2 separate regions of the Homo sapiens genome follow, and region 2 is linked to region 1. The links come from fine-mapping of genetic effects on gene expression. A gene starts in region 1. The other region holds a variant in brackets. All regions are shown on one strand. Distances are between the middles of the regions. Region 1 holds the start of ZBTB20-AS1 (ZBTB20 antisense RNA 1). Region 2 overlaps ZBTB20 (zinc finger and BTB domain containing 20).

Region 1 (4,397 bases):
TAGCTCTGGAATCATAGAATCCAGGGATGAAACATGATCTTGCCCATCTTGATGACTGAATCCTGTGTACAAAATCCCTAAAAATGTTCATCCATTCTCTCCTTGAATGCGTCTAATTACAGAAACTCACTCCATTTAAAGGCAGTCTATCTGATATTAGAGCAGATCTGATTGTTAACAAAATTTTTCTTTTATTTTGTGGAAAGGATCTCCTGATAGCATCCAATCATTGGTCTAGTTCCACCTTTTGGAGCCAAACTATACAAACTGAATGTCTCCTCCTCTTAACCATCTTAATAATAGCTACCACTTATAGAGCACTTATTATATGCTTGGAAGTACTCTAAAGACTTCACATGTATTAATTTATTCTCAAAACAGCACTATAAGGAAGGCGTATCACGATTATTCTCATTTTATACACAAGGAAACTGAAGTATAGACAAGTTAAGTAATTTTTCCAAGGCGACAAGGTTTAGTAGTAGCTAAGCCTGAATTTACACCCAGGCCATCTGGCTGGGTGTAAGAGCTCAAGCTCTTCCTGACTACAGTATGCTGCCTCTGAAACACAAATACTTGAATATGGCTTATATAATGACCTGAGTCTTCTCTTCTGCAGTCTGGACATCCCTAGGACATCCCTTCTCCATAAAGGGTTCCTGTGACGGTGTCTCTTGGTGGCAGGGTGCTTTGTTCTTATGATGGGAGGAACACAGTTGGGGTTTCTAGAAGAGGCTTGTGGTGGGGTCTGTTTAAAATCTGAAAGATGATCCCAAACCTTCCCTTCTACCTGCTCTCTTACCTTGCCTTCCCACAGCCCCCTCAGCCCCTGCTGCCAGGCCTCCAGGTGGGGTGACACTCACCTGTGTGTACGAACATGTGCTTGACGTAGTTCTGTTTGGCGGTGAAAGTCTTGTTGCAGAGAGTGCACTCATAAGGCTTTTTTTCGCCTTGCCCACTGGCTGTGCTGTGGCCTGCGGATGAGGCCAGGGGCTGTGGCGCTGGCAGCTGTGCAGTAAAGGTCGACAGACCGGGCTGGGACACTGTCACAAACTGGGTCTGCTGGCCTGCCAGGGGCTGTGGCAGGCTGAAGAGGAAAGGCTTGGGGCCACTGCCCGCGGGCTGGGTAGTGAAGAGGGCTGGCAGGTAGGTGTTGCCAGCTGTGCCAATGACCTGCGTGTTGCTGGTCAAGGTCAGAGGCATCCTCAGGTTGCTGGTGAGGGTTTCTGTCTGGCGTAAGTAGAGCTGGGTACTTGGCAATGGCTGCCCGATGGACGTGTTGACCGAAGGCTGTTGTAGGACGCTCTTGTCGGAGCTGTTGCTGACAGTGATAACAGTGCTGTCCATCTCCACTTCATTGCTTCTCTCCGGAGAGGAAGCACCTGTTTCTAGCTGGTTTGTCTGCGGACCACCCTCAGCGGGGGCTTCTGCAGCCTGCTCGGGTTGGGTGGGTTCAGCCTGGCTGTCCCGCGCCGCCCCAGGCCCAAACTGCTGCTCCACCGAGTCAGGCTCGGTGCCTATGGAGGAGCTGACGCCCGAGTCGAAGCTTTCACCTTTGGGCTCACTCTCGGTGCCCTCGGCCTGGTCTGTGTCTTCCGTGCACTCCTCGGATTCGTTGCGTTCCAGGATCTGCACCCTTTGCTGCCCGTAGTAGTCGTAATCGTCCTCCATCTCCTGCTTGATGTGGATGTTGCCCACTAGGGTCTGGATGCGCACAGGCCGGGGCTGCTTGCGGCAGTGCGTGGTCTCGGGGGTGGTGGACAGGTAGCGCTCCATCTGCTGCGAGCGCTCATGGATGCGTGTGATCCAGCTGGGGTCTTCCATGTGGTGGTCGCGGGGCAGGCCGAGCGCAGTCTCGTGGTGGCTGACCACTGCGCCGCTGTAAAAAGAGCGCTCGCCGCTGCCATTCTGCATGGAGCACGCGTAGAGTGCCGAGTAGATCCTGTCCACGCTGTGCTGTGGGTGGCTCTGCAGGTAGCCCGACTCCGTGTCGCTGCTCTGGCCTGACGTGCCTGACTCGGGAGTGCCCCGCGGCGTGTCCTGGCCCGAGTCCTGGATCCCCGGGAACACATCGCCCACGTTCTGTGACACGATGCGCGTGCACTCGTCGATGACTGTTTTGATCTGCAGGATGCTGGCGGCCGTGAGGATCTGCAGAGCTTCCGACTGCGAGACCCGTAGCACGCCGCTGTACATGAAGTCAATGAGCTTTTGCACTGACTGCACTGACACCACCGACGGGATCTCGATGTCGCTGTAGCCAAGCAGCAGTTTGTCCTGGAAGAAGGGGCTGCCGGCTGCCAGCACGCAGCGGTGTGCGCGCAGCATGCTCCCGTGGATGCGCACCGTTACGTCACAGAAGTGGCCACGGTTGCGCTGCTCGTTGAGGGTCTCGAGCACGGAATTGCTGAAGTTGTGAAGGTTGATGCTGTGAATGCGCTCGGTCATCCCCTTGCAACTGATGTCACCTGCAGCATGTCAACGCAGACACAAAACAGGGCATGGGTCAGATCTAGCTGGTTGCATTCCTAACACCTAGGTTTCAGGTGAGTAATGCTCATGGCTCCTAGAAGCACTGCCCTTACATACGCAAGTGGGGAGATGGACAGGCTGCGGCATACAAGCTGTAGGTACGATGACCTGAGGGAAAAGGACCTTGAATTTTGCTCCAATTCCGGCCTTTAGTGCCGCAGCCATTTTGGGTATCCATATTAACTCCCCAGAGCTTCGGCTGAGGTAGAGTGGCCTAATAACCAGATGATTTGTTTGCCTGCTATTCCTACAGCTTCAGCAAAGAACTGAAAGGCAAATGGAAGACTTGTTCTTATGGAACACTAAACCTCCACTTTATTTTTATTTATGTATTTATTTACTTTGCCTTCACTTTAGACAGGCCTAAGCCCAGATTCTTTGGGAAAGTTTACATTTCCCCCAACTTATCAAAGTCCCTTATTTTATTCATACACAGTGACCATATTCATAGTTAACAAATAAACCCCCTTCCTATTAAGTCATATGGCATATTATCAAAACCCACACCATGTATGCAAAAATTATTGGAAAATTCAACCCAGACTAAGATATCTACCAAACAGTCATGATCATGCTTTCCGGATGATGGATGGGCTACAGAAAGCAATCTGCTAGCTAAAGGGGCACTCCATGGCTGCTTTCTGTATCTACTCATTCTTCTTGTCATCTCTGACAACCTGTTTGAGCACTTTCTAGGGTGGTTGCATGTGATATGGAAGGTTTTCTGAATTTTCTGAGGCTTAATGAAGGAGGAATGTTAAAAAGGTCAGAGATGGCAGTTCTGACCCAGGAGACTACAGTACATTGGTGATCATATTTATTATGCAAACAGGGCACTTTCAAGAGTGAAAGAGAGCATTGTTAATAATTAGGCCAGGATAGCAGGAGTAAGCCAGAAGTGGGATATATGATCTCCTTGGGTAATAGGGTGCTTTATGTACTTGCCACAGGGAAGTATTAAACAGCTCCCAGGAGGAAGGCAACAGCTATGTGGAGGCTGCGGATAGCCTGACCCAGCGCCACCCTATAACGTAGGCTGTTATGGCAAGGGATACTATTGATAAGATTTGGATTCAGAATGAGAAAGAAAACAGGTGGCTACAGCAGTAGATCTTAGGGCTTTTCTATTTTTCTAGCTCATCTCTCAGATGGCTCTAGAGAATCCCCCTCCAAATAATTCTTCAATCAGATTCCCCATTCTTGCCTTTACAACTGAACAATCAGCTTGGGAAAGTGAAATAAGTGGGCTTTCAAAACCAAATGGCCCAAGCACTGATTGTTGGCCTGGACCCAAATCTCTCTGTCTTGTGAGAAGCCACCTGAGAGGTAACAGCCTGCAGATAGGAAGAAGGCCTACCTCCTCAAACTCTTTCCGCTCTACCTTGCGATAGAAGACTTGTTCAGGAAACTCTGAGTTCAATGAGCGTTTCTACCTTGCTTCACTCAATCACCCTCACATGGTATGAGCTTAACTTAATAAATGTTCAATAATACAATTTGCACTAATTTGTATAAGAGCATTCTTTCTCGTTCTGACTCTATCAGGTCTGTTATGTGCCTAAAATATTGTATTAGGCTACAGATTCCATCGTTTTTACTTATATAAGACAAGTTCTCTTTGCCAGATTAAAGAATTAAGGTAAATCCCCTGTAACCATGTGAACACAAAATATGGCCCCAAAAGAAGGCACAAATAACCCAGGAAGGGCTGTTCAGGAGCTCAATCAGCAGCAGACCAAATTTCAAGTTCTTGCTGAGTTCGCCATACATACATACCATGATAGTAATCACAAGATAACATTTTTTAGGGGTTACAGTTCTAACTGCTTTCTGTATATGATTTCATTTAATCTTACAGCAACCAT
Region 2 (4,397 bases), 37 kb after region 1:
TGATTAAACACATTTTATTTTCTCAATCTTATTTTTTTTAACCTTGGCAGGGCTGATTTATAATTTTTTTTTCAGTATAATTTCCTCTTAACTGTATCAGTCAGGATCCTGGCAAAAATAGATGGCACATGCAAAGTTTTTAGCTAAAGAGGATTTAATGAAAAAACTGTATTTGGAGCTGCAGATGAGGTTAAGGGACCTCAAGAGAGATAGCACCAGGTACTAGCAATAGTAGAGACTGCCAGGTACTAGCAGTAGTGGAAAGCTTTAAACCATTTAAACTGAAGGGGCAAGTAAAATGGTGATGAATTCTGAGTCCAGTCAGAATTGGAGTTGGGAAGGAGGGCTGAACTAACACATTTCCTGACCTCTCTCTTCCCCCACTTTCACATCTCCTGCTGATGTCTCCTTTTGGCCAAATTCAAAGGGAAGCCCAAGGACAAGAGAGCCTGGGTAATGTAGTCCAGAAGGCCAGTCTTCTGGGTCACACATCAGGGCAAAAGAATGGTTCTGGGGTTTTTTTGGGGGTAGAATGGGGTGGCAAGACTAATCAACATATGTGTTCTTCTCTCTTATACTTTCAATTATACTTTCTGGAAGGAAAGACAGAACAAAATAAAATAGGTTCTGTCTTAGCTTCCATGTACCTATTATGTCGAATTGCCATTCACAGAGCAAGAAAAGAGAATGCTGCTCAGCCGAGCAGGGATTTTTGTTTGTTTTGCTTGCTGCCATATTCCTAGTTCCTAGAACAGTGTCTGGCACATAGTAAATGGTCAGCAAATTTTAAATGACTGAGTAAATATACTCACCTCTGCCGTGACAGACTTTATATATATATCATCTCATTGACTTATCACAATAATCTGGTTAAGTAGGCAGGGCCACTGAGCATTATTGTGCAGGTGGTATGGGGGGGGTGGGTAGGTATTAAAATTTAATATGTGCCTCCCCAACCCACTTCCAAGCCTTGTGACTAGGCCCGAAGCATTGTCAACCCACCAGAAGAGATATACTTCTGTAAATGATTCACATTTTAATTTTTTATCCTCTTTATTGATTTTTGCACCTAGCAAGTTTCTGTTTTATTATTATTATTTCTCTTTTATGCATTGGAAAGCCAAGTTTCTGAATAGCAAAGACTGCAAAGATTATAACCCAGTCTGTCCATTCTCTAGGGCCCATGAGAAGTAAAAGCAGGCACTGGCATTCTGCACAGATGAAATACTTCCTACGACAGGAATACATGCTCACTTGTGGACTTCTCTGTAATCTGTAGGCAACATCAGCTCCTGATTTCTAGGTCTGGATCTGGGTTCTCTGTAGCACAGGAAGGTAAGAGTGATAAGAACTCTTTTCCCTCTTAAAGGATATAGAAACTTTTAAACCCATCTGCATCATAGTAAGGCTGTGTTATCTGTATCAGCATAGTTACTCTGTGATGAAGAAAAACTCAGAAAACTATCCAGATGTGGGAATTTCTCGGGTATTCCTTGCACTTGAACTTAAGGATGAATGAAGGTATATACAAGTAAGTTCCTTGTGTGGGTGTGGACTGAAGAAACTATGTTTGATCTTCTGTCATGTCTTTAGTCCCCAGTAACTCAGTCCTATTAGTACTATAGAACACATTCCCCTCCGGGAAAGGCAGGCCTGTCTATCACCTACACAGCAGCCCCCATCAACTATGATTCAGTTGACTGGAAGCATTAAAGGTAAAAAAGCAACACAAAATAAAGCAAAACTCTGGCTTCATCCCTTTAGGTTTGATTTATACCAGAATAGCTAAAGACATAGAAATATGAATGTAAATATCCTACCTGAAGCCTAAGAGGGATGTTAGTCTCCCAGGTTTAGCGTTTTCCAGTAACATAGAAGTCTGTAAAACACCATCCCATTACCTGCCTCATAACATATAGGAAAACTTGTGAATATAACAACTAGTTATTGTTTTAAAATGTGTAATTAAGTTACTTTGCATGCAGAACTTCTAAATAATTCAAATGACTGGCTTTTCTATTGGAAAATAGCATATATTCATCTGTTATTTCAGCAATGATTAATGAATACTTGATATCAAACTTTCATCAGTATTTTCCCATAGGTATCATATCCCCTACCCCAAATTATTTCTGTACTTTTCCTTGCAAGGTCTCTACTTCTCCTACATAAATGCCTTGCATGGCGGGAACTAAATCAACTACACAGACCCATACATCCAGAGAGCAGAGGTGAGCTGGATACAAGTGGCTTAGAGATGTGGTGGAAGGAGGCCAGAGCTCCAAGGGAAGGGCAGCAAGGAGACAACAGCATGGGTTGCAGCTCAGACAACAGGTAAATAAAACCAAGCAAAGCTGCTGGTCACAGATTTGACCAGGGTGGCAAGAAATGACAAGCTACCATGAGATTCAACAGTGGCACGGAAGGATGATGAGAAGCAAACAGATTAGGAGAAGCTGCCACCACCGTACATAGAGGCACAGATGACCAAGCAGAACAGCACCAGTCCCTGCAAGGTGTGCTCAGATACAGCTCAGCACAGCCATCTGGCCAGGAGGGAATGATAATGCACATGGTGTGCACTGCAGCCGGGAAGTTGAGAACCGCTGTGGGCACCTCAGGACTGAGTCTGGTTACCCTGCTGATCCAAGAAATGAAGCCATCTAAAATTTTGCCTGCTTTCACAATTTTCTGTGTGTGTGTGTGT[G/T]TATTAAACAAAGTGAACTAAGAAGCCTTTTATTGGAGACATAATGTACTCACAGTAGTTTCAAAATCAATGGTGTCACTCTTCAGGTAAATTACTCCAAGGCTTGGGCCTAGTGCAGATGTTCATTGGGGCAGGGAGCAGAGAGCGGCTGCATCTAGATCAGACAAAAAACAAAAATAAGGTTGTTAAATGAACAGGTGATGGTGATGGCAATTATTTATTTTGATAGGAAAGAACTTTGGGACTTGAGTGAGAGGTTGGTTGTTTGGTTCTACATCTTTGCACCAGAGAATGGCGAGGTACGGAAGGGAGAATGGAGAGGATGTTGTCCAGGCTCCATTTTCAGTGCTTTCACCTAACTGCCTGTGCAGCCTGGGACATCAACAGTACCCTGTCAGTGCGGGCGGAGCTGATTTTGTGGTTCTGACTTAGAAGCTGAGTTGTGGGTGACAGTGGGGGAAGGAAGTAGAAACAGTGTCCTTCAACCTTCCCACAGTTGATTCTTCTAGTATCCTTTTCTTTTTTTTTTCATTTATTATATTTATTTATTTTTTATTCACACATAAAAATTGTATATATTTATGGTATAAAACATGTTTTGATACATGTATACATTGTGGAATGGCTAAATCAAACTAATTAAAATATGCATTACCGGCTGGGTGTGCTGGCTCACACCTGTAATCCCAGCACTTTGGGAGGCCGAGGTGTGAGGATCACGAGGTCAGGAGATCGAGACCATCCCAGCCAACACAGTGAAACCCCGTCTCTACTAAAATGCAAAAAAATTAGCCAGGCGTGATGGCGCACGCCTGTAGTCCCAGCTACTCAGGAGGCTGAGGCAGGGGAATCGCTTGAACCCGGGAGGCGGAGGTTGCAGTGAGCCGAGATTGCACCACTGCACTCCAGCCTGGCAACAGAGCAAGAGTCCATCTCAAAAAAAAAAAAAAAAAAAAAAGAATTACCTCATGTATTTATCACTTTTTCATGGTGAGAACACGTAAAACCTACTCTCAGTAATTTTCAATATATACTACATTCTTATTAACGATAGTCATGAGGATGTACAGTACATCTCTGGAGTTATTCCTCCTGTCTAACCGAAATTTTGTGTCCTTTGACTGATGTCTCCTCAGCGTCTGGCAGCCACCATTCTAATTTTTGCTTCTATAAATTAAGCTTTTATAGATTCCCCATATAAGTGAGGTCACGTGGTATTTGTTTTTCTGTGCCTGGCTTTTCTAGTACAAAAAAAAGCCTATTTTTTCCCCATATATCATGGATGACCTCTAGATTCATCCATGTTCTTGCAAATGACAAGATTTCCTTCTTTTTGAAGGCTGAATAGTGTTCCATTGTGTACTTTTACCACATTTCTGATATTCTTGATTTCATTTCAGTCTCTCTCTTTATTGCTTAGTTCTTAATGTATTCTAGTGACACCCATTGATCTGGGCATGTTCTGAGCATTCCCTCTGTCCTTCACTGCAAAGGCTCCATTTTCTTCCATAGGCTCTAACCCTGAGGACACCGAATTACCCTATTTTTTCCCCTATACCTCAGTCTGCTATTCTGCCTTCTTCACTGGCTTATTTTCTTTCTTCTGTTCTCTAAATGTAGACATTCCTCTAGATCCTCTCCTCAGGCTTTGTCTACCCCAGTCCTCCCTGACCTCAACAATCACTTCTCC

The links. PIP is the estimated chance that this variant, and not a neighbour inherited with it, causes the effect.
Region 2: its variant is fine-mapped to the expression of ZBTB20-AS1 in whole blood (TOPMed, PIP above 0.99).

The regions. Positions count from the first base shown.
Region 1 is chr3:114,349,411-114,353,807 of GRCh38, forward strand. It overlaps ZBTB20-AS1 (ZBTB20 antisense RNA 1), which reads left to right and starts at 2,401. Exons shown (of 9, transcript NR_038993.1): 1 at 2,401-2,546. ZBTB20 (zinc finger and BTB domain containing 20) reads right to left here. Exons shown (of 12, transcript NM_001348800.3): 11 at 864-2,468.
Region 2 is chr3:114,386,245-114,390,641 of GRCh38, forward strand. ZBTB20 (zinc finger and BTB domain containing 20) reads right to left here. Exons shown (of 12, transcript NM_001348800.3): 8 at 2,761-2,861. It overlaps ZBTB20-AS1 (ZBTB20 antisense RNA 1), which reads left to right. Exons shown (of 9, transcript NR_038993.1): 8 at 1,179-1,335; 9 at 2,152-2,734. Among named protein-coding and RNA genes, the nearest start is that of ZBTB20-AS1, 37 kb to the left of the region's middle. The variant G/T (reference allele first, on the strand shown) is at 2,708.